Linked DNA regions of Homo sapiens. The protein of the gene in region 5 interacts with the protein of the main gene of each other region in a biochemical or structural test. Each region holds a gene or a part of one and is shown on either strand. Other genes may lie near its edges.

What was found.
Region 1: the proteins of CACYBP (region 5) and LNX1 interact in a test that uses a peptide from one of them, tested with the Homo sapiens proteins (one large-scale study listed by IntAct).
Region 2: the proteins of CACYBP (region 5) and MAGI2 interact in a test that uses a peptide from one of them, tested with the Homo sapiens proteins (one large-scale study listed by IntAct).
Region 3: of the proteins of CACYBP (region 5) and MAPK1, one has a biochemical effect on the other in vitro, tested with the Homo sapiens proteins (2 studies listed by BioGRID).
Region 4: the proteins of CACYBP (region 5) and IL16 interact in a test that uses a peptide from one of them, tested with the Homo sapiens proteins (one large-scale study listed by IntAct).
Region 6: the proteins of CACYBP (region 5) and LIMK2 interact in a test that uses a peptide from one of them, tested with the Homo sapiens proteins (one large-scale study listed by IntAct).
Region 7: the proteins of CACYBP (region 5) and MAST2 interact in a test that uses a peptide from one of them, tested with the Homo sapiens proteins (one large-scale study listed by IntAct).

What each region holds. Positions count from the first base shown.
Region 1 is NC_000004.12:53,504,487-53,507,986, reverse strand, and holds part of LNX1 (E3 ubiquitin-protein ligase LNX), read left to right. Parts: coding exon 1-1; intron 2-517; coding exon 518-670; intron 671-3,500.
Region 2 is NC_000007.14:78,253,668-78,257,167, reverse strand, and holds part of MAGI2 (membrane-associated guanylate kinase, WW and PDZ domain-containing protein 2), read left to right. Parts: intron 1-586; coding exon 587-1,225; intron 1,226-3,500. UniProt on the Homo sapiens protein: Seems to act as a scaffold molecule at synaptic junctions by assembling neurotransmitter receptors and cell adhesion proteins. Plays a role in nerve growth factor (NGF)-induced recruitment of RAPGEF2 to late endosomes and neurite outgrowth.
Region 3 is NC_000022.11:21,787,646-21,791,145, reverse strand, and holds part of MAPK1 (mitogen-activated protein kinase 1), read left to right. Parts: intron 1-2,337; coding exon 2,338-2,452; intron 2,453-2,757; coding exon 2,758-2,889; intron 2,890-3,500. UniProt on the Homo sapiens protein: Serine/threonine kinase which acts as an essential component of the MAP kinase signal transduction pathway. MAPK1/ERK2 and MAPK3/ERK1 are the 2 MAPKs which play an important role in the MAPK/ERK cascade.
Region 4 is NC_000015.10:81,203,379-81,206,878, forward strand, and holds part of IL16 (pro-interleukin-16), read left to right. Parts: intron 1-3,500. UniProt on the Homo sapiens protein: Interleukin-16 stimulates a migratory response in CD4+ lymphocytes, monocytes, and eosinophils. Primes CD4+ T-cells for IL-2 and IL-15 responsiveness. Also induces T-lymphocyte expression of interleukin 2 receptor. Ligand for CD4.
Region 5 is NC_000001.11:175,006,447-175,009,946, forward strand, and holds part of CACYBP (calcyclin-binding protein), read left to right. Parts: intron 1-298; coding exon 299-395; intron 396-651; coding exon 652-751; intron 752-2,162; coding exon 2,163-2,260; intron 2,261-3,476; coding exon 3,477-3,500. UniProt on the Homo sapiens protein: May be involved in calcium-dependent ubiquitination and subsequent proteasomal degradation of target proteins. Probably serves as a molecular bridge in ubiquitin E3 complexes. Participates in the ubiquitin-mediated degradation of beta-catenin (CTNNB1).
Region 6 is NC_000022.11:31,264,298-31,267,797, reverse strand, and holds part of LIMK2 (LIM domain kinase 2), read right to left. Parts: intron 1,853-3,500; coding exon 1,666-1,852; intron 815-1,665; coding exon 728-814; intron 23-727; coding exon 1-22. UniProt on the Homo sapiens protein: Serine/threonine-protein kinase that plays an essential role in the regulation of actin filament dynamics. Acts downstream of several Rho family GTPase signal transduction pathways.
Region 7 is NC_000001.11:46,033,617-46,036,622, forward strand, and holds the end of MAST2 (microtubule-associated serine/threonine-protein kinase 2), read left to right. Parts: intron 1-185; coding exon 186-322; intron 323-456; coding exon 457-650; intron 651-921; coding exon 922-2,450; 3' UTR 2,451-2,506; downstream 2,507-3,006. UniProt on the Homo sapiens protein: Appears to link the dystrophin/utrophin network with microtubule filaments via the syntrophins. Phosphorylation of DMD or UTRN may modulate their affinities for associated proteins. Functions in a multi-protein complex in spermatid maturation.

The DNA.
Region 1 (3,500 bases), on a different chromosome or scaffold from region 5:
GGTGAGTCAAATGGGTGGTTGTCCGGGAATGGGCTCCTTGGCTTGCGATTGCCCTCTGTGGAATACTTACTGTGGAAAGTTCTGTAAATGTTTTTTAAGGGGAAATCGTTCTGGTAGTTTTGGCAGGAACCCAATGTCCAATTCGCCAAAGTGAAATGAAACCGCAAGTACCTCCAATCATTAAAACTGTGTGTAATCTGACTTGGTGAAAGGGGCTGAAACTAGACCTAATGATTCATCACTCCTGCAGTGTCAGTAATTTTTCAGCCATGCTGCTCAAGAAAAGTGGTATTGTATTCAGTTCAGCCCAGAAACAAAAAAGAAAAGCAGGATTTTAAGCACGTCGTACATATTTCACTGTAGAAAACTTAAAAAATACAGGTAAGCAAATTCTACAATCCTACCACCCAGAGGTAGTCACTGTTAATGTCTTATTGTGTATATCTTATCAGATATGTACATAAATGATTATTTCTATTAAATCATAACTACTGTTCCTCCTGTCGCTATTCCTCAGCACGGCCCTTTGAGAGATCCACTATTAGAAGCAGATCATTTAAAAAAATAAATCGAGCTTTGAGTGTTCTTCGAAGGACAAAGAGCGGGAGTGCAGTTGCCAACCATGCCGACCAGGGCAGGGAAAATTCTGAAAACACCACTGCCCCTGAAGGTAAATGAACTCCCCATAAGGCTGGATGGACATGGGCTGGGCTTCCAGGGGGACTTCAGGGATGACGCAATCTGATCACCTTCCACCTTCTGTGACCCCTCTCTTCCCAAGGGTATACAATATTTTTTACTTTGATTAGCCTACTTCTCACGTATGTAGCTAAAGGCAGAAAGTATTATCATCTTTTTACATAGATTGAAGAAAAAAGTGTTGAAACCCTCACCTTCAGGCGCTAGTACCATTATGCATATGAGGAAGAATAATTATAATTAATGAGTGAAAAACATTTAAAACAATGACTGGCACATATAATAAATGCAATATATATATTCGCTCTCCTTACTCTTTCAACTACATTTGAGGTGTGGTGCTGAGTGTTTTACATGCATTTCCTCATTTAAGCCTCACAACAACCCTATGAGGTAGCTACTATTATTCCTCTTTTTTTTTTTTTTTTTTTAGACAGAGTTTTGCTTGTCGCCCAGGCTGGAGTGCAACGGCGGCATGATCTCGGCTCACTGCAACCTCTGCCTCCTGGGTTCAAGCAATTCTCCTGTCTCAGCCTCCCAAGTAGGTGGGATTACAGGCACCCACAACCACAACCAGCTATTTTTTGTATTTTTTAGTAGAGACGGGGTTTCTCCATGTTGGTCATGCTAGTCTCGAACTCCTGAACTCAGGTGATCCACCCACCTCGGCCTCTCAAAGTGCTGGGATTACAGGCATGAGCCACCGCACCTGGCGCCACTCCTATTCCTGTTTTACAGATGAGGAAACTGTGGCACAGAGAGGTTACTTAGGTTGCTCAAATTACCTTGCTAAACTTTGAATCCAGGTAACATGGCTGTAGAATTCATGCAAAGGAAGCTATTGAGTCTTAGATCCCATATGTTTTCCCCAATATAAGTGGAGCTGAGGAAATACTGTCCTACTGTCTTTGCATTTTATGTTAGAACTTTAGAGTAGTAGTAACAGCTTTTTTAAAAAATTGAGCTCTTTCTGCATGCACATAGTGTTTTAAGTCATTTAGATGTGACAATAATGTTAAGGGGATAGGACTATCATTCCCATTTTACAGATGAGAAAACGGAGACCCAGAGGGATTAGGTAACTAGCCCAGTCACCCAGCTAAAAAATGGCAGAACCAAGATTTTAAATCAGGTCCTCTGGTTCCAGAGCCTACTCTCTTAGCTCCTGGGTTATACTGCCCTCTACTCTTGGGAGTTGGGAGGCAGAACCCAAACCACTGTATGTATTATGCCCTCAAAATTCATGAGCAGCCTTATCAGACCTTTTCTTGTATACTTATTCATGATTGCCTCTCACCCTGCACGTACATGCTGCATGCTCTAACAGCTCTCAGCTTATTACAGTCCTATAAATGCTGTATATCTTTCTTTCACCTCCCTTCCATTATCCAGCCTGCGCTCCCACTCTCCTTTCAGCTGGCATTCACGTTCCTTCTTCCAGATTTAGTGTAAGACTTTGCCTCCTCCTGGAAACCTCACTCCCTCAGCCCCCTTTTTAGGTGTTTTTGAAGCACCTGTATCAGCGATGATCATGTTTCATGTAACTGTACCTCAAAGTGCAGGGATTATTTTTCTGAATCTTTGTTCTTAAGGCCTAGCACAGTGTCTGGCACATAAGTGTCCACTAAATGTCTGTGCAATGGCTAAATGAAAAGATTAGAACTTCCTTTCCACCAGTCTCTTCCTCTTATTAAAGACTCTTCAATTCCACTCCATGTAAAGTTCTCTACTACTTGGGCCAGACGTGGTGGCTTACTCCTGTAATCCCAGCACTTTGGGAGGCTGAGGCAGCCATATCACCTGAGGGTGGGAGTTTGAGACCAGCCTGGCCAACACAGTGAAACCCCATCTCTACTAAAAATACAAAAATTAGCCAGGGCATGGTGGCGGGCACCTGTAATCCCAGCTACTTGGGAGGCTGAGGCGGGAGAATTGCTTGAACCTGGGAGGCAGAGGCTGCAGTGAGCTGAGATTGTGTCACTGCACTCCAGCCTGGGTGACTCCATCTCAAAAAAAAAAAAAGTTATCTTGAAAAAGATTTATTTGCATATTTATTACAAAAACATTTATAAAACAGATTATTATATGTAAGGCACCGGCCTAGGTGCTGTCATTTTATATAAAGAATATAAAATGTAGTTCTTGGCATCAAGGGGTTTATTCAAGACTAAAATATAATAAAATAAAAGCATACCTCATTTTTATTTTTACAAATTGAAAGCTTGTGGTCACCCTGTAGCCAACAAGTCTGTTTGCTCCATTTTTCCAAAAGCGTGTGCTCACTTCATGTCTCTGTGTCACATTTTGGTAATTCTTGCAGCATCTCAAACTTTTTCATTATTATATCTGTTATGGTGACATGTGATCAGTTATCTTTGGCGTTACTATTGTAATTGTTTTAGCGTGCCACGAGCCATGCCCTTATAGGTCAGTAAATTTAATAATTGTGTGTTCTGACTACTTCACTGGCCATTTCCCCATGTCTCTCTTCTTGGGCCTCCGTATTCCCTGATACATAACAGTATTGAAATTAAGCCAATTAGTAACCCTACAATAGCCTTTGAGTATTCAAGTGAAAGGAAGAGCCACATGTCTCTCACTTTAAATCAAAAACTAGAAATGAACCTTGGTAAGGAAGGCATATTGAAAGCTAAGGTAGGCTGAAAGCTAGGCCTCTCGTGCCAAACAGCCAAGTTATTAATGCAAAGGAAAAGTTCTTGAAGGGAATTAAAAGTGCTACTTCCAGTGAACACATGATTTACAAAGCGAAACAGCCTTATTGCTGATATGGAGAAAGTTTG
Region 2 (3,500 bases), on a different chromosome or scaffold from region 5:
CCAGCTCCCTAATCCCAAAACCTGCACCCTTGACCTTTGCTCGCATATACATGGAAGCTTTGTAATTACCTGCTATAGATGGAAAAAAATAAATGGGCAAATATTTTTCTGTTCCATAAAAAAGAAAAAAGGCAATTGACTTATTCAACTTATACAAAAAAAAATATGCTAGGGCTTTGTTTTTCGTCTAAAACTCATGACCACTACTTCTCAATAGTTCGAAAATTATATTAACTGAATTACACTGAAGATGGAATATAAGATGAAAAAGAAGCATAGAGAATGTGCTTCTTCAAGGTACACATTCCTCTAACCTTTTCTTTCAGAGCCTTTGTTTCTGAATATGAAGTTGTTTCTGAACTTCAAGAATAACCAAATAGCTTTTTTTCAGCACTTCATCATTGTATTTGCTGGCAGTCCTGTTGTAACCTTGAGTCACCCACAGTGATTTTAAGTATTATTCTAATTGATTTCTCACTGCTTACTAAGAAACAACACCTCTCACTAGTCTCGTAAATAATTCCATTTCTCTATGTCAATGTTAATTGAACTTACCTCATGTTGTCAATCTCTTTTTTTCTTACAGGTGATGTCATTGTCTATATTAATGAAGTTTGTGTCCTTGGACACACTCATGCAGATGTTGTCAAACTTTTCCAGTCTGTTCCTATTGGTCAGAGTGTCAACCTGGTGTTGTGTCGTGGCTACCCTTTGCCCTTTGATCCTGAAGACCCTGCTAACAGCATGGTGCCACCCCTTGCAATAATGGAGAGGCCACCTCCAGTGATGGTCAATGGAAGACACAACTATGAAACATATTTGGAGTACATTTCTCGGACCTCACAGTCAGTTCCAGATATAACAGATCGGCCGCCTCATTCTCTGCACTCCATGCCAACTGATGGTCAGCTAGACGGCACGTATCCACCGCCCGTCCATGATGACAATGTGTCTATGGCTTCATCTGGGGCCACCCAAGCTGAACTTATGACCTTAACCATTGTGAAAGGTGCCCAGGGCTTCGGCTTCACTATTGCCGACAGTCCTACAGGACAGCGGGTGAAACAAATACTTGACATTCAGGGATGCCCTGGCCTGTGTGAAGGCGACCTCATTGTTGAGATCAACCAGCAGAATGTACAGAACCTGAGCCATACAGAAGTAGTGGATATACTTAAGGACTGTCCCATTGGAAGTGAAACTTCTTTGATTATCCATCGAGGAGGTAAGACAAACACTGGCTCAGCAATAAAATATGTGGGTAAAATAGTAGGATCATTTAATAATATTGTTAAAATGCAGATTTCCTTGGAGTTGAATGAAATTATACTTTAAAAAATAAAGCTTAAAGAGTGAGAGAGAAAAACATGAATTAAAGGAAACTTTGTTTTTGAATTCAGAATATGTCTTTTTCTATTTTGTATTAAACACAATAATAATAGTTCTTTCAGTCTTACAGACATATTGATAGAAAGTTGGAGGGTAAAGATTAAATCCCCAACTATGAATGTATTTTGTTTCAAAAATTCATTCATGTATCGGTCATGGAGAACTCAAACTGGTTTCCCATTGATTTAATTAAGAAACCTGCTTTTACGATGGAAGCAACGCTTTTAATCGTGCTTAGGTTTCCAGGCTAGCAGGTGGAAGCCAGTTCAACCCCTACTAAGCCCAAGCACAGTCTTGACAATACTCAGAAGGACCATGAACTGTGAGAGCTGTGGGAGCTGTGCTGCTGTAGAAAAATCTTTTCACAGTTTGGAATGATGCTGTTCAGGACACTTCTGCTACTACAGGAACTGCACTAGCAACAATTACCCATAGTGCCTCCCATGATCTGGGAAGAAAGTTACAGAACAGGGTGAGGGCTGAAGTTCTGGCCTGAGTGTCCCGGGCAAAGTATGGAAATAGGAACAGTGCCAAGTGTGGTAGAAGCTCTGAGCCCTGAATGTTTCTTCCCCTCTACCTTTTCTGTGGGGAAGGGAATGGGGTAAAGCACAGGGCCCCTTCTCCACACCTCTGCTGCTTTGCTCTGGATGACCAGTGAACCTAGAGAGAGAAGGGAGGGAAGGGGCCATAGATAAAGAGGATACTATCTCGAAAAAAGAGTGTAAAGGAAAAGGATCAGGCTAAGCCCTGGTTTTCCCATTTGCCAATTTGTGGACTTAGGACACTGAAAGTCAATGAGCCTCAGCCATGTCATCTGTTACAATGGGATAATACTACTACCTAACCCAGTGGTAGTGTTGTAGCCCAACATCTGCTCACTAAATGTCTGGCGAGTGTAAACATCGAAGCTTCAGCATGGGTGGGTCAGAAGGAACAGGACAATGAGGAACTCATGCATGAAGGACACACGTGTGACAAACATGTGGTTGCCTATTCAAAGCACTCAAAACAGCCTGAAACTCTCAGTTTGAAATGCAAGTGAAGGCTGTCAAAGCTGAAAGAAAGAAGCACCTTTTATGATTTATTTGGCCCTGTCTGCAGGTGTTTTTCCTTCAAGGAAGTATCACATTGTTGATTCCTTGTTTGGAAACGGACAGCAAACACCAGGCATTTGTGAGCAGCACTCTACAAAGTCTTAGGTTCCCGGTACTAAAAGGGAAATTCATATGATAGCCAAACAATCTTAAATTTGACCTTCTCAAGGCATTGTTACAAAATAGCACTTGAATTCTCATAATTAAATGTTGGCAAGGTATTTTAATTTCTTGCATTGCTTAAGATTAAAATAAACATTGCTAATTAAATAGCCATATCTTCATAGTGTCCAAATGAAAATCAAATATTTGGACCAAGTTCTTGATATTAAATGGTATCACAAACTCACTGTGCAGTATCCACTGTATGATTCATAGAAACAAATTTGGATGCATTTTTTATATACAGCTTCTTCTAAAAGCATGACATAGCAGAAAAAAGGTACTTTGAAATCCCTAATTTACATTATGGTAATTTGTACTTTTCTGAAAATATTCGTTGTGTGCCTGCTATCAGCTTGGCTACCCCATTCTCACTTTTCCTTTGCCCCCCATTTACTCCACAAGTAATCAAAGTGGTCTTTGCATTTGGTTTGTGTTTGGGGATGAGGGAATTGGTTTTTGTTTTTTGCCTAGCATAGCAAAATGCAGAATGCTGTGATGCTTAAAGTACTTCTAGTCGAAAACCTCTTGAGTTTACCCTAATTCCCACAATTTATACTCATCTCTCTGAAATTAATAGGAACTAGCACCATGCTTATGTGGTGAAATTCACTTTATCTTATTATGGGCTACCAGAAGTGCCTATGACCTCTTTGAGATAAGCAGACTCAAGAGCTGAGTCGCAGGCCTGGGTCCTTATATCAGGACCATGGGTGGTCGGCTGTTTTTAATTATTTACTAGAGTTTTTAATTTATAAAGTAATAATGTACATGGTTTAACTTTTTTAAAGCAAATAATGTCAACAAGTATAAAATGAAAGTAATTGTCTGTCCTATCCCAGACTTTCAGTCCTT
Region 3 (3,500 bases), on a different chromosome or scaffold from region 5:
CAGCCTGGGTGACAAAGCAAGACTCCGTCTCAAAAAAAAAGGACGGGTTCTCATTCTGTCACCCAGGCTGGGGTACCGTGGCACCATCTCGGCTCACTGCAACCTCCGCCTCCTGGGCTCAAGGCCATCCTCCCACCTTAGCCTCCCAAGTATCTGAGACTACAGGCACGTGCTACTGCTCATGGCTGATTTACTTATTTATTTTTGTGCTTTTCATAGAGACAGGTTGTTGTGTTTCTTTAGTCTCCTTTAAGAGTGCAGATGAGCTATTTTGTAGAATGCCCCTCAGTTTTGGGTCATGCATTTTTAACATGAATACCAGAAAAGCACTTCATTGTATTAGAAGGCACTTCTGGAGCCAGGTATGGTGCCTCATGCCGTAATCCCAGCTCTTTGGGAGGCTGAGGCAGGAGGATCATTTGAGCCCAGGAGTTTGAAACCAGCCTGGGCAAATAGTGGGACCCCTTCTCTACAAAAAATTTAAAAATCAACCAGGTGTGGTGGTGTATGCCTGTGGCCCACCTACTGTGTGCCAGCTACTCAGTAGTGCCAGCTACTCAGGACCTGGCTGAGGTGAGAGGATCACCTGAGACAAGGAAGTTGAATTTGCAGTGAGGCATGATTACACCATTGCACTTCAGCCTGAGTGACAGAGTGATGACACCATCTCTTAATTTTAAAAGAGTCAGCTTATATTCCTTGGAGAAACATCTTTTTTGCACCATTGTTATGATTCAGACAGAATCCTTCCATGATTTTTTTTTTTTTTTTTTAATTTTTAGAGAAAGGGTCTCACTCTGTCACCCAGGCTGGAATGCATTGGCTCGGTCACAGCTCACTGCAGCCTCCAATCCCTGGGCTTAAGTGATCCTCCCACCTCAGCCTCCCGAGTAGCTGGGACTGCAGGTGTGAGCCACCATGTGTGGCAAAATAATAATAATAATGATAATAATAATAATAATTAGTTAATACCCAGTGTTGTTGAGGACATGAGGAAATGCATTTTCTTTCACATGCTGCTATTAGGAGTGTAACAGTGCAACTGCAGTCATAGTTCACTGCAGCCTCAAACTCCTGGCCTCAAGCAGTACTCCCACCTCAGCCTCCCAAAGTATCCTCCCATGACTTCTAACAGGATTCCTTTAAAAGAAAACATATTCCTGAAAAATGAATAGGAAAAGAAGATGAGAATTCTTTTATTTTATTTTATTTGTTATGTTATGTTATATGTTATGTTATGTTTTATGTTATGTTTATGTTATGTTATGTTATGTTATGTTATGTTATGTTATGTTATGTTATATGTTATGTTATGTTATTTTTGGAGATGGAGTCTCCCTGTGTTGCCCAGGCTGGAGTGCAGTGGTGCAATCTCGGCTCACTGCAACCTCTGCCTCCTAGGTTCAAGCAATTCTCCTGCCTCTGCCTCCCAAGTAGCTGGAACTATGGGTGCCCACCACCACGCCCGGCTAATTTTTGTAGTTTTAGTAGAGACAGGGTTTCACTATGTTGGCCAGGCTGATCTTGAACTTCTGACATCAGGTGATTCGCCCGTCTCGGCATCCCAAAGTGCTGGGATTACAGACGTGAGCCACCATGCCCAGCTGAGAATATTTTAGAAGAGATTGGTAAAATATGATGGAGCTAGCACACACTCCCCCAAACCCAGAAAAGGTTTTTAGACCTTTTTTCTTTTTCCAGCTCCAATTTATGACAATTCTAAATCTGTCTCTCAAATTGTTTCAAAAAAGGACGGATGTATACTTTGGAAATTCTAATTTAATAAGTTAATCAACTTTGTGGGTTTGTTGTTGTTTTGAGACAGAGTCTCGCTCTGTCACCCAGGCTGGAGTGCAGTGGCACGATCTTGGCTCACTGCAACCTCTGCCTCCTGGGTTCAAGCAATTCTCCTGCCTCAGCCTCCCACGTAGCTGGGATTACGGGCACCCACTACCATGCCCGGCTAATTTTTTTGTATTTTTAGTAGAGATGGGGTTTCACCATGTTGGCCAGGCTAGTCTCAAACTCCTGGCCTCAAGTGATCCGCCCGCCTCGGCCTCCCAAAGTGCTGGGATTACAGGCATTAGCCACTGTGCCCAGCCCAAGTTAATCAACTATGAAGAGAAAAATAAAATCACATAATCTTGGTTGTTCAGCCTCTCATAAGAAAGCCAAATTGTTTTTTGCTTTTCCATGTTGTTTACTTGTATTTCTGAATTGTAGAGTCAAAGGAGAAGTTCAGAGTCCCATCAGCAATGCACCTGTCATACAGGAAGATCTCATCATGTCCTGTAACACCAGATACCATTTTCAGTCTTTTCTCTCTTTCTCCTGCAGGGCTACACCAAGTCCATTGATATTTGGTCTGTAGGCTGCATTCTGGCAGAAATGCTTTCTAACAGGCCCATCTTTCCAGGGAAGCATTATCTTGACCAGCTGAACCACATTTTGGGTAAGGTTCCCGAGCCCTTCAGGAGCTAGATTTACTCAAGTTTGTACAGCTTACATCAAAGTCACTTCATTAAATTAAGAAGAGTTCTAATATACTCTTTAACCTGTGGTAGGTGTGAATTTTTAACCTTCTCTGATTTAAAATGTTAAGGACTTTTGTGTAAAAACATAAGAAAGGTAAACATCAGGAGTGGTGATAAGCAACGGCTCATATCAATTATCAGGGTTCATTCCGACTCAGAGTTGATGGTGTGTAGTCATTTACCTTGGTCCTGATAACTAATAGCTAATTTTTTTATCTGATAGGTATTCTTGGATCCCCATCACAAGAAGACCTGAATTGTATAATAAATTTAAAAGCTAGGAACTATTTGCTTTCTCTTCCACACAAAAATAAGGTGCCATGGAACAGGCTGTTCCCAAATGCTGACTCCAAAGGTAAATGTTATTTCGTTGATTAGTTTTTTCTTAGGCTTAGCTTCGCGTTTATTTGTTAAATTGTTAGGTCACTAGCCTGAAAAATGAGCCTATGGCTATTGGATAATGCTTTCTTTAGTGCTCACTCTGAATTGTTGTCTTCCCCCTTTTTTTTTTTGGAAACAGTGGCAGTGCAGTAAGGGAACCTGGTAATGACGGTCTAGTTCTCCACCTTTTGGTTTCTTTGCTAATTTTAATTTGCATTAAGGTCACTTTTTTTTTGTTTTTGTTTGAGACAGTGTCTCACTCTGTCGCCCAGGCTGGAGTGTAGTGGCCCGATCTCGGCTCACTGCAACCTCCTCCTCCCGGGTTCAAGCGATTCTTCTGCCTCAGCCTCCCAAGTAACTGGGACTACAGACGCGTACCACCACGCCTGGCTCATTTTTGTATTTTTAGTAGAGACAGGGTTTCACCATGCTGGCCAGGCTGGTCTCGAACTCCTGACCTTTTGATCTGCCCACCTTGGCCTCCCAAAACTGGGATTACAGGCGTGAGCCACAGCGTTCAGCCTAAGGTCACATTTTTAGGTCTCAGGAAGTCTAGGACCCTGCAAACAAATTACACCTTTTCAT
Region 4 (3,500 bases), on a different chromosome or scaffold from region 5:
GACATGAAGTCCTTGCCCATGCCTATGTCCTGAATGGTATTGCCTAGGTTTTCTTCCAGGGTTTTTATGGTTTTAGGTCTAACATTTAAGTCTTTAATCCATCTTGAATTAATTTTTGTATAAGGTGTAAGGAAGGGATCCAGTTTCAGCTTTCTACATATGGCTAGCCAGTTTTCCCAGCACCATTTATTAAATAGGGAATCCTTTCCCCATTGCTTGTTTTTGTCAGGTTTGTCAAAGATCAGATAGTTGTAGATATGCGGCATTATTTCTGAGGGCTCTGTTCTATTCCATTGGTCTATATCTCTGTTTTGGTACCAGTACCATGCTGTTTTGGTTACTGCAGCCTTGTAGTATAGTTTGAAGTCAGGTAGCGTGATGCCTCCAACTTTGTTCTTTTGGCTTAGGATTGACTTGGCAATGCGGGCTCTTTTTTGGTTCCATATGAACTTTAAAGTAGTTTTTTCCAATTCTGTGAAGAAAGTCATTGGTGGCTTGATGGGGATGACATTGAATCTATAAATTACCTTGGGCAGTATGGCCATTTTCACGATATTGATTCTTCCTACCCATGAGCGTGGAATGTTCTTCCATTTGTTTGTATCCTCTTTTATTTCCTTGAGCAGTGGTTTGTAGTTCTCCTTGAAGAGGTCCTTCACATCCCTTGTAAGTTGGATTCCTAGGTATTTTATTCTCTTTGAAGCAATTGTGAATGGGAGTTCACTCATGATTTGGCTCTCTGTTTGTCTGTTATTGGTGTATAAGAAAGCTTGTGATTTTTATACATTGATTTTGTATCCTGAGACTTTGCTGAAGTTGCCTATCAGCTTAAGGAGATTTTGGGCTGAGACGATGGGGTTTTCTAGATATACAATCATGTCATCTGCAAACAGGGACAATTTGACTTCCTCTTTTCCTAATTGAATACCCTTTATTTCCTTCTCCTGCCTAATTGCCCTGGCCAGAACTTCCAACACTATGTTGAATAGGAGTGGTGAGAGAGGGCTTCCCTGTCTTGTGCCCGTTTTCAAAGGGAATGCTTCCAGTTTTTGCCCATTCAGTATGATATTGGCTGTGGGTTTGTCATAGATAGCTCTTATTATTTTGAAATACGTCCCATCAATACCTAATTTATTGAGAGTTTTTAGCATGATGGGTTGTTGAATTTTCTCAAAGGCCTTTTCTGCATCTATTGAGATAATCATGTGGTTTTTGTCTTTGGTTCTGTTTATATGCTGGATTACGTTTATTGAATGCTAAATGACGAGTTAATGGGTGCAGCACATCAACATGGCACATGTATACGTATGTAACAAACCTGCACGTTGTGCACATGTACCCTAAAACTTAAAGTATAATAATAACAAAATTAAAAAAAAAAAAGAAAAAAAAGAAAATTTGGAAGGCATTGGAAGCAGCCTGCACCAAGTCCTGGAAGCTAGAGAGCGCATGGGACATTCAGGGGACTGAAAAGGTTTAGTGCTGTAATAGAATGGAGTTCAAGATAGGGCAGAGCAAGAGCCTGGAGGGGTTGGGGGAGCAGACCATGATGATAAAAAAATTGACAGGCCACAAAACAAGACAAATTTTAAGTCTCAGTGACGGTTGTTAATACGATTTTGAAATAAAGCAAATGATAAATCTTAGACCGGGCGCAGTGGCTCACACTTGTAACCCCAGCACCTTGGGGGGCCAAGGTGGGTGGATCATTTGAGGCCAGGAGTTCAAGACCAGTTGGCCAACCTGGTGAAATCCCATCTGTACTAAAAATACAAAAATTAGCCGGGCATAGTGGCACGTGCCTGTCATCCCAGCTACTCGGGAGGCTAAGGCAGGAGAATGGCTTGAATCTGGGAGGCGGAGGTTGCAGTGAGCCGAGATCACACCATTGCACTCCAGCCTAGATGACAGAGCAAGACTCCATCTCAAAAAAAAAAAAAAAATCTTGAGAGATGATATATAATGATCTATGATGTCCCCTAAATAGTCAATCACTCTGAGAGCACCTAGCACCTCACCTCTTGCATAGGGAAGAGGCATCAGATAGTGCCATTCTTGCAATCAATGAAGAGGAAAAATACAGGCTCAAATATTGCTTTGAAAAATTCTTTACATAGCCACCAGTAATATCAAATAAAATGAATGAAACCTATGATTCATTAAGAAGGAAAAGAAAGTGTGAATAAGTTGACTGGAAAACAAGAAAAGGAATAATTAAGGAGCCATAATAAGAAAAACAAAACATGTGAGAAGAAAGATGAATCAATTAAGCTCTGTAGTAAGATTACACATTAAAATAAAAGAGACTCTCAGATTCAGTTTAAAAAAGGGAAACAAAAAAAGCCTAAAGAAACAAACTCTCTCTCCCCAGTCCAATTATATCCCACTTTCAAGAGACACATTTAAAACTTAATCACATAAAGTTACAAATAAAGGGATAGGAAAATACTGTGCAAATGCAAATTAAAAGAAAGTGAGGTGTCAGTGTTAATTTTGTCAGACAAAATAAAAATTGAGGCAACTATTAAATAGATCAAGAATTACTTTTTTACAAAATGATAAAAAGAGCACTCAATGAAGGCATGAAAATCAGAAAACTTTGGGTAAACATAAAGCGTCGAAATATGTAAAACAAAAAAATTAGAGATATACTCCAAATATGGTGTTAGATTTCAATGTACACCACTGTTAAGATTTTTTCAGATTAATTAGACAAAATGTACATAAAGAGCTTGAATTCTATGACTTACAAAATTGAATATGTGCTTACATATATATGCAGTCATGTGTTGCATGGCAATGAAGATAAGTTCTGAGAAATTTCATCGTCGTACAAACGTTACATAGGGTACTTAAACAGACCTGGATGGTATAGCCTACTACACCCCAAGGCTATATGGTATTGCCTACTGCTTCTAGTCTACAAGCCTGTACAGCATGTTATTGTAGGCATTTGTAACACAGTGGTAAGTATTTGTGTATCTGAACATTTGTAACAAAAGGTACAGTAAAAATATGGTATTTTAATCTTATGGGACCACTATCATATAAGCAGTTCTTTGTTGACCATAATGACTGCATTTTAATATCACATTTGAATATATACATATTTGAAACCCAAAACACAGAATAATCATTCTTTTCAAATGTGCACAGAACACATAAAACACTTAGTCACATCACATACTGGCTAACAGAGTAAACCTCAATGAATTCCAACAAATAAAAATAAGACACATCCTGTGGCACGATGCAATTAAACTGGAATTTTCTAATAAAAAATTGTAAGAACAGCAACACTAAATCTGGGAAATTTAACTACATGAAATTAACAATAACACCAAAAATCTCCTGAAGAACTGAGTTTAAATTGGGAATCAAAACTGCAATTACAGACCATTCCTAAAATAACATTTAGAATATTGTATTTCACAATTCCTGGGTTGGGGCCAAAAGGATGTTCAGAAGAGAATTTCGGGCTTTAAATAATGATGATGATG
Region 5 (3,500 bases):
TATTTAGTGATCATATTTTTATTCTGAGGGATAAAAAGAGCATAGGTTTTGTATTCAGAAACCTGGATTTGAATCTGAATTCTACCACTTGTTAGATGCCTAGCTTTGGGTAGAGTACTTAACTGCTTTGAGGCTCCATTTCTCAACCTAGAAAATTTCTTATATTTCAAATTTTTTCATGTTTATATGACTGGATTTTCATAATTTTACTTTCCTGACTTATGAGCCATGTGCATTTGCTGTTCTAAAGATAGTTTCAGAGGCTTACTTACGTCCCATCTTTTGTTGTCGTTGCCAGGATGGGATCAGTCAGATAAGTTTGTGAAAATCTACATTACCTTAACTGGAGTTCATCAAGTTCCCACTGAGAATGTGCAGGTGCATTTCACAGAGAGGTGAGTTCTCATTATAATGGGAAAGACAGTGAATTAACAGTCAACATTGCCTTATCTTGAGACTCTCTTCTTTGCAGTTTTTAAAATTCTTAAATTTAGAATTAATTATCCTTTACAACTACTTTGAAGAGGTGAGCGTTAACTGGCCAAATGCACACCCTGAAATAAAGCCAGCAGCTTTTTTCCCACAAGAACTATGGAGTAAGGGTACCTTTCATAGAACTAGAAAGATGATGTATTCACCATTGTGTTGCAGGTCATTTGATCTTTTGGTAAAGAATCTAAATGGGAAGAGTTACTCCATGATTGTGAACAATCTCTTGAAACCCATCTCTGTGGAAGGCAGTTCAAAAAAAGTGAGTGTGCTTTTTTTGATTGTAATATTGTGAAACCTTACCAAATTGAACCTGGCTGATTTAGAACTGAGATGAACTGGAATGAATTTGTCCTCTGTAACAGGGACCACCGCCTGTTTTGTGAATGTTTTATTGGGACATAGCCAGGCTTATTTGTTCATGTGTTGTTTGTGGATGCTTTTGTGCTACAATGGCAGAGTTAAGTGGCTACAGCAGACCATATGGCCCTAAATGAAACCTAAAATATTTACTATGCGGCCCTCGACAGAGAACATTTGCCAACTCCTTTTGTAGAATAGGCTATTGTAAGAATATTCCATTAAAATCAGGGAGGAAGTAAACGTTTGAAGGTAGTTAAGAGTGAGACTTGAGTTTTATGCCAGGTTTACAGCTTATTGTTTGTGACCTTTGGCAGCTTAATCACTCTGTGCCTCAGTTTCTGCATTTATGCGATAGTAATAATTTATTTCACAAAGTTGAAATGATACACTGAAGTGCAATACCATTATGTAAAGTGCTTAAATTAATGCTAGTGTTAGCATTGTGCATAATACTCGTATACATAAAAGGAGGTCTTAAGCACTTAGCCTCCTTGGAGTTAGAAGCAGCTATAAAAATAAGGAAACTGTCTTTTAAAAACTACTCTTTGTAATTTTTACTAAATCAGATAGTCCCTGTTTTCTGCCTAATGTGAATAAATGAAGTTTAATGCGTTAGGTATATAGACATGACATTCTGCCATCTGTTTTTATAATACATAATTACTTAACAGCTTACAGGTGATACTCAAATATAGTTGGATTCGCTGTCTTACTGCACCCTTCTGCATCCGCTAGTCCCATAGGTAGAGTACCAAAAGATCCCTAGTATTGATCATTGTTTAAAAGACCTGTACATTGCCCTTCTTTCTCACTTTCAAATGCCTCACCTTGCCCCATACTGCCTTATACGACTTGGTTTCTTGCCTATCCCCGACCCCTCTTATTATATTACTGTCTTTTTCAGTCACTAAAATCCAGCCACTCCTCCTGCTCCTCAAACACACCAAGATGATCCCATCTTGGAGCCATTCTGCATGCTCTGCCAACTGCCTTCTCCTGACCTTAGGCTTCGGCTCAGATTTGCCTCAGAGAGGCCTTCCTAATGAAGTTCCTGCCCCCACCCCCCATTAACACCCGCTTTGTCTTGATAGCACTTTCCAGGATATCAGGGTATTCAAGTTTTACTTATTTATGGTCTTTTCACACCATGAATGTTCAGATTTTGGCCTATTCATACAAGTATTACTGGCACCCAAAATAAGTCTATACATACTAGGGACTTGATCAATTGAATAGATAATTGTTTTATAAATATTCATGCTTATCTCCATGTCTTCTAAGCTGTATTTGTTTTCCTGCTTTTCTTCCAGGTCAAGACTGATACAGTTCTTATATTGTGTAGAAAGAAAGTGGAAAACACAAGGTGGGATTACCTGACCCAGGTTGAAAAGGAGTGCAAAGAAAAAGAGTGAGTCTACTTCCATTTTTTTAAAGAATTTTAGTGTATTGTTTGAGATCATGGATTTTTAATAGTTTGTCTTTATGGATAATGTATTTCTGCTTTCAACTGTCAAACTACCTGAAGAGGGCACGTCCAGCAAGTTGCTTTTTAAGGTCTTTGTAGTTAAGGGTTGGCTCTTTAGTGTGGTTCTTAACCCTAGGCGCAGTTGTGCTTCTATACAAATAACTGTGCCCATTCCCAGATACTCTGTTTCGGTAGTTTGAGAGGGGCTTAGGTACCCCTGTATGTTTTAAATTTCTCAGATGCTTCTGATGCGTAGTTTTCATTGTCACTGGTTTATAGTGAAAAAGATAAAATATTTTTATCCTTCTTAATAATGACCTTTTAAAAATGTGTATTCAATGATACTTGCGTTCTAGGTCAGTTCATCTTCTAAAGGTACTGACTAAATTAATTCAAGACCCAGGCCCAGATCTGTGTATCTCAGGCTTAAGAGGAGAGTTTTTCTAATTAAAAAATACATGAGCTTCAGGGTACATCCATGTGTAATGTTTATGATTTTCCCTCAAGTGTTTTTTTTCAAATTATGAGGAAACATGCTTTTAAAAAATGAAAACAAGTTAGAAAATCAAATTCTTATTTTACCTGTCAAAAATCACAGGAGGCCAGGTGGGGTGGCTCACGCCTGTAATCCTAGCACTTTGGGAGGCTGAGGCGGGCGGATCACCTGAGGTCAGGAGTTTGAGACCAGCCTGGCCAACATGGTGAAACTCTGTCTCTACTAAAAATACAAAAATTAGCCGGGCATGGTGGCATGTGCCTGTAATCCCAGCTACTCGGGAGGCTGAGGCAGACAGAATTGTTTGAACCTGGGAGGCGGAGGTTGCAGTGAACCGAGATGCGCCACTGCACTCCAGCCTGGGCAACAGAGCAGGACTGTCTCAAAAAAAAAAAAAAAAAAAAAATCATGGGAAATCCCTGTGCCTAAAAATAGCCCCTAACTATTTTGATGACCTCTTTCGTGCACCAAGTGTGTGCATGCTTGATACGTGTGTGTTGTTTTCATTAAGATGAATTTGTGCGTGCCGTTTTGATTGTAAATATCTTTGGGTACTCTGTCTTCCTTCTTATCCCTCTACTTCCTGCCAGTGTTAACAACCTGAATGATAGTATCTTCCGGTGCTTTCGTTTCCCCATTGTTGTATATGTTTTCTTTTTAAAGGAAGCCCTCCTATGACACTGAAAC
Region 6 (3,500 bases), on a different chromosome or scaffold from region 5:
CCAGGCTGCGCATCACTTTCACCTGGGGGTGGGGGAAGCCAAGGAAAGCTGGTGGTTAACTTCTCACTGTCTTCCTTACCTCTTCCCTCCAAGGAATCAGCTTGACAAGTGTTACCACCTGTATCTCCTACCTCCTATCTTGTGATATGACAGGGCACTAAGATCAGGATGAGGGAAGACCACCACCATATAGATGGAGATGGCTTCATAGGCCTTACCCTTGGAACTGCATTGGGAGAACTGGGGTGGGAGTGGCCAAGTGGCTTGGAGGGCAATACCCAGACCACAGGTGTCCCCAACTTAAGTTACTCCATGAAGTAACTTGGGAGGGGTAGTGAAAACTGTAAATGCCCAAGGAGTGTGAGTGCTCAGGGAGCTCCCCTCCAGGCTCCCTTAGCAGGGCGTTCAGGTGAGGATTATAACATTGAGTTGTACTAAATTGGAGTGTTTTCATGTCCATCATCCTCATAACCTGAGAGCTCTTCTGAACCCTGTATCTTTTGTTACTGCATCCCTTGTACCCTGTTTGTGTTGCTTTTAGTAAGTGTTCATTGAACAAATAATTACGCTGTAATTTAGAGGGAGTGGGATATTCCTCTAGGGCTCTTTTCTGCTTAGTCTTTAAGACAGTAATTCCAAACTGTATTTTCTCTTGAAGCCATTATTTGTAAGGTCTTCTCTCTTCCAATGGTGACACCAACCTCCCGGGCCCCCTCCATCTTCTTACCTCAGTCAGAAAAGTTTTCTGGGTCTCCTCATCACATCGAATTAACTCTTTCATGACCATCACTTTGCCCGTGGCTTTGTGTGTCACCTACAGGGAGGGTGACTGTTAATGGTGCTGAGACCAGAGGAAGTTCTGGAGAACTGTTTGAGAAAATCTATGCAGCTGGCCATCCCATCCCTTGGAGGGCACACTGAGCCGGGTCAGAATGACAGAGTTCATGTGTGGAAGATGCAGCGTGGAGCAACATGGGACTCACACGGAAGCAAACCCTCTTTCCTGGAGAGCTGGGCATGCACAGAGGACAGGCAAGAACCCAGAAAAGGGAAGTGGGGAAGAAGGCAGGAGGGGATGCTGCCAAGCCAAGCAGGGGCTCTGGTCATTTGGCATAGAAGTGAGTCTCCTGAGTGAACAGAAGTCTGGGGGCAGGAAGGTCAGTGCCAAAGACATGCACCAGGGAGCTGGGTGGATCGGGGGTGAGCTCTCCAGCCCTGCTGCCCCCAAGCTGAGACACACGTCTTACCTGACCCCCCCTCCCAGTTCTCAGCAGAAGAGGAGGAGGAGGAGAGAAAGAGAGAGGTTAGTCCCTGAGACTGTTCACCAGGGAGGCAGGAGCCATTCCCCTGTGTGCTCCTTGTAGCATGCCCGGTACTGAGGTCTGCAGGCACCTAACAAACACCCACTGACTGGAGGCAGGAGGGCCACAGGCACAGCTCAACCCAACCTGGATCTCCAGGTCCACAAGCTCACTGTAACAGCAACATTGACCTTAGGTGGCCTGGGTGGGGGTGAAGGATACCTCTCACACCAACACCCAAAGCCAGGAAGGAGGCCTGGCATCCTGCATGGTGTGGGGTGGGGCCAAGTGATGAGAAATCCCCGAAAGACAGTGACAGAGGGACTGGGGGCAGAAGAGCAAAGCAATTGTTGCCTGCGCTCACCTTGATAGCCTGCCCAAAGAAGCCCTTCCCCAGGACCTCCCCATGGATTAGGTCACAGGGCCGGAAGATCTGCTGTGAATAGCTGCTGGAACAACGAAGGGATTCTGAGCGGCTGATGTCACGGCTGAACAGCAGGGGCTCCTTTGGGGAGCTGGGGCCAGGGGACTTGGAGATACTGTTACTGCGCCTGAAGATGAGGAAAGACGGGAGTAGGGATGTGTAGTCCTCAGAGACCGGCCAAGAAACCCTGGAGGGAGGAAACTTAGGGGCACCTGTTCATTCCAATGTCTATAGTTTAGATGTTATTATTGGGGAACAGGGGCTCTTACATCAGATGTATCATTTTGGGGTTGCTGACATCAGTCATTTATTTAAGCATAGTAAAAACACATTCAAAATGGGAACTCTGCATACATCACACATAGAACAATTAACTAGATTCTACTAGCTGATAATGCTCAGTATGTGACATATATGACAACACTGTAGATGGTAATTCACCATCTCCCATATCTGCTTGATTTAAGTACTAACTGGTTTAGAGTGATAGTTATACTAGTATCCAAAAAATGAGCAAATGGGATTTTTTTTTTTTGAGACAGAGTCTCGCTCTGTCAACCAGGCTGGAGTGCAGTGGTGTGATCTTGGCTCACTGCAACCTCTGTCTCCCTAGTTCACCTGAGTCTCATGCCTCCGCCTCCTGAGTAACTGGGACTACAGGCATGTGCCACCAGGCCCGGCTAGTTATTGTTATTATTATTATTTTTGAGACAGAGTCTCGCTCTGTCGCCCAGGCTGAAGTGCAATGGCACGATCTCGGCTCACTGCGACCTCCGCCTTCCAGGTTCAAGCGATTCTCCTGCCTCAGCCTCCCAAGTAGCTGGGAGTATAGGTGCACGCCACCACGCCCGGCTAATTTTTTTTTTTTTTTTTTTTTTTTTGATGGAGTCTCACTCTGTCGCCCAGGCTGGAGTGCAACGGCGGGATCTCCACTCACTGCAACCTCTGCCTCCCAGGTTCAAGAGATTCTCCTGCCTCAGCCTCCCAAGTAGCTGGGATTACAGGCGTGTGCCACCACAACCGAATAATTTTTGTATTTTTTTAGTAGAGATGGGGTTTCACCATGTTGGCTAGGTTGGTCTCGAACTCCTGATCTCGCGATCCATCTGTCTCGGCCTCCCTAAGTGCTGGGATTACAGGCGTGAGCCACCACACCCGGCCCTAATTTTTGTATTTTTAGTAGAGATGGGGTTTCACCATATTGGCCAGGCTAGTCTCAAACTCCTGACCTTGTGATTCGCCCACCTCGGCCTCCCAAAGTGCTGGGATTATAGGCGTGAGCCACTGCGCCCAGCCTAATTATTGTATTTTTAGTAGAGATAGGGTTTCACCATGTTGGCCAGGCTGGTCTCAAACTCCTGACCTCAAGTGATTTGCCCGCCTCGGCCTCCCAATGTGCTGGGATTACAGGCGTGAGCCACCGTGCCTGGCCAGCAAATGGGATTTTGGATGATATTTTGCACATCTTTGTACCTGTCCATGTTTCCTGAATTTTAAGATGATAAACACGTATGATTTTTACAGCAATAAAGTCACTATGTTTACATTTTCAAAAGCGGTCGATAATAGTCATGGTCAATGACTGTTATTTTCACTTACTGAAGAAGGAACAAGAAGGTTGAAGTCCACAGCACTGCAGGTGAACAGCCCTGCGAACTTTCTCTCTGGGGTATGCTCCTGCTTTACTTGGGCTACCCAGAGAGGACTGACGCTGGATGGCTCTTGGCTTGTCCCGACCTACAGGTTTACTTACCCTTGTCCTTTTGCTCTGCCTC
Region 7 (3,006 bases), about 130 Mb from region 5:
GGGCTCCAATGGGAGCCATTTCCTCATCTGTAAAAACAATAATATAGGCCTGTGGTTCAGATGTGTTGGTGCAGGGACAAAAAGCTGGAGCTGTGGTATAGCCATGCCAGAAGGGAAGGATTGGGGGAGGGGAGGGGCAAGAATATGGCTCCAGCTTAGCCTAGGCCTCATGCTCTGCTCCCCAGAGTGGAAACAAGGTGGCCATTTCAACAACTCCCCTGGAGAACACATCCATTAAAGTGGGGCCAGCTCGGAAGGGCAGCTACAAGGCCAAGATGGCCCGAAGGAGCAAGAGGAGCCGCGGCAAGGATGGGCAAGAAAGGTGAGCCAGGCGCAGTGAAGAGGGTTTTCTCTGAGCCACATGAGTGCTGGTACGTGGTGGGTGCCTTGGCCCTGGGGGTCCAGTGTGTGCTGTGCTCACTGCACCGACTCAGCCTTTGACCCTTATCCCCGCAGCAGAAAAAGGAGCTCCCTGTTCCGCAAGATCACCAAGCAAGCATCCCTGCTCCACACCAGCCGCAGCCTTTCTTCCCTTAACCGCTCCTTGTCATCAGGGGAGAGTGGGCCAGGCTCTCCCACACACAGCCACAGCCTTTCCCCCCGATCTCCCACTCAAGGCTACCGGGTGACCCCCGATGCTGTGCATTCAGGTACGAAGGGCTCCCTGCAGATCAGTGACAACCCCTGGGAAATAGGAAAGTTCCTAGGCCCTGTGTGCTTCTGACAGATCCCACTCTGAGTCTCTCATTTAGCCCACCCCCTGAAAGATCCTGTAGTCTTGGGGAGGAATTAATTGATGGGGAAGGGGGTAGCTTGGTTTCTGGGACATAACAGGGCTAAGCCCTGTCTTGCCCTTGAGTCACTTCTAACAGCTAACACTGCTCTGCTTTTGTCTGTCTGTCTGTCTGTCTCTGTACAAAGTGGGAGGGAATTCATCACAGAGCAGCTCCCCCAGCTCCAGCGTGCCCAGTTCCCCAGCCGGCTCTGGGCACACACGGCCCAGCTCCCTCCACGGTCTGGCACCCAAGCTCCAACGCCAGTACCGCTCTCCACGGCGCAAGTCAGCAGGCAGCATCCCACTGTCACCACTGGCCCACACCCCTTCTCCCCCACCCCCAACAGCTTCACCTCAGCGGTCCCCATCGCCCCTGTCTGGCCATGTAGCCCAGGCCTTTCCCACAAAGCTTCACTTGTCACCTCCCCTGGGCAGGCAACTCTCACGGCCCAAGAGTGCGGAGCCACCCCGTTCACCACTACTCAAGAGGGTGCAGTCGGCTGAGAAACTGGCAGCAGCACTTGCCGCCTCTGAGAAGAAGCTAGCCACTTCTCGCAAGCACAGCCTTGACCTGCCCCACTCTGAACTAAAGAAGGAACTGCCGCCCAGGGAAGTGAGCCCTCTGGAGGTAGTTGGAGCCAGGAGTGTGCTGTCTGGCAAGGGGGCCCTGCCAGGGAAGGGGGTGCTGCAGCCTGCTCCCTCACGGGCCCTAGGCACCCTCCGGCAGGACCGAGCCGAACGACGGGAGTCGCTGCAGAAGCAAGAAGCCATTCGTGAGGTGGACTCCTCAGAGGACGACACCGAGGAAGGGCCTGAGAACAGCCAGGGTGCACAGGAGCTGAGCTTGGCACCTCACCCAGAAGTGAGCCAGAGTGTGGCCCCTAAAGGAGCAGGAGAGAGTGGGGAAGAGGATCCTTTCCCGTCCAGAGACCCTAGGAGCCTGGGCCCAATGGTCCCAAGCCTATTGACAGGGATCACACTGGGGCCTCCCAGAATGGAAAGTCCCAGTGGTCCCCACAGGAGGCTCGGGAGCCCACAAGCCATTGAGGAGGCTGCCAGCTCCTCCTCAGCAGGCCCCAACCTAGGTCAGTCTGGAGCCACAGACCCCATCCCTCCTGAAGGTTGCTGGAAGGCCCAGCACCTCCACACCCAGGCACTAACAGCACTTTCTCCCAGCACTTCGGGACTCACCCCCACCAGCAGTTGCTCTCCTCCCAGCTCCACCTCTGGGAAGCTGAGCATGTGGTCCTGGAAATCCCTTATTGAGGGCCCAGACAGGGCATCCCCAAGCAGAAAGGCAACCATGGCAGGTGGGCTAGCCAACCTCCAGGATTTGGAAAACACAACTCCAGCCCAGCCTAAGAACCTGTCTCCCAGGGAGCAGGGGAAGACACAGCCACCTAGTGCCCCCAGACTGGCCCATCCATCTTATGAGGATCCCAGCCAGGGCTGGCTATGGGAGTCTGAGTGTGCACAAGCAGTGAAAGAGGATCCAGCCCTGAGCATCACCCAAGTGCCTGATGCCTCAGGTGACAGAAGGCAGGACGTTCCATGCCGAGGCTGCCCCCTCACCCAGAAGTCTGAGCCCAGCCTCAGGAGGGGCCAAGAACCAGGGGGCCATCAAAAGCATCGGGATTTGGCATTGGTTCCAGATGAGCTTTTAAAGCAAACATAGCAGTTGTTTGCCATTTCTTGCACTCAGACCTGTGTAATATATGCTCCTGGAAACCATCTTTATGTCTTTTGCTTGCTTGTTTTCCTTCGGTCAACCCACATGTAACTAGGTCCTGTGTTGCTGCTGGGAATATAGTGGTGAATAAAACAGTTTCCACCACCAGGGGAGGGCCACCTAACCCAGCTTGACTTCCCAAAGGCTTTGACATTTGAGCTCAAACATGAAGAATAGATGATAGGTAGTAGTTTGCTGGGTGTGGAAGAGTGGAGGTTGGCATAAGAAAGGCTGTCCAGGCAACGTTTAGCACATGCAGTATACCTGGCATAGTCAAGGAACCAAAGATAATTCAAAGTAGAAACGGGTCTGGCAAGTGAGGCAAGGGCCATGTCTAATGGTCTTCCAGGAGATTTGACTTCGTGAAGGTGATGGGGAACCAGAAAATACCATGTAGCAACTAAAATTCCTTCATAGATAAGGGCACTAAGACTTTGATGCCCATGGTAATACAGTAGCTTGGGTAGAACGGGGGTTAGAACGTAGGTCTCCCTTGGACTCC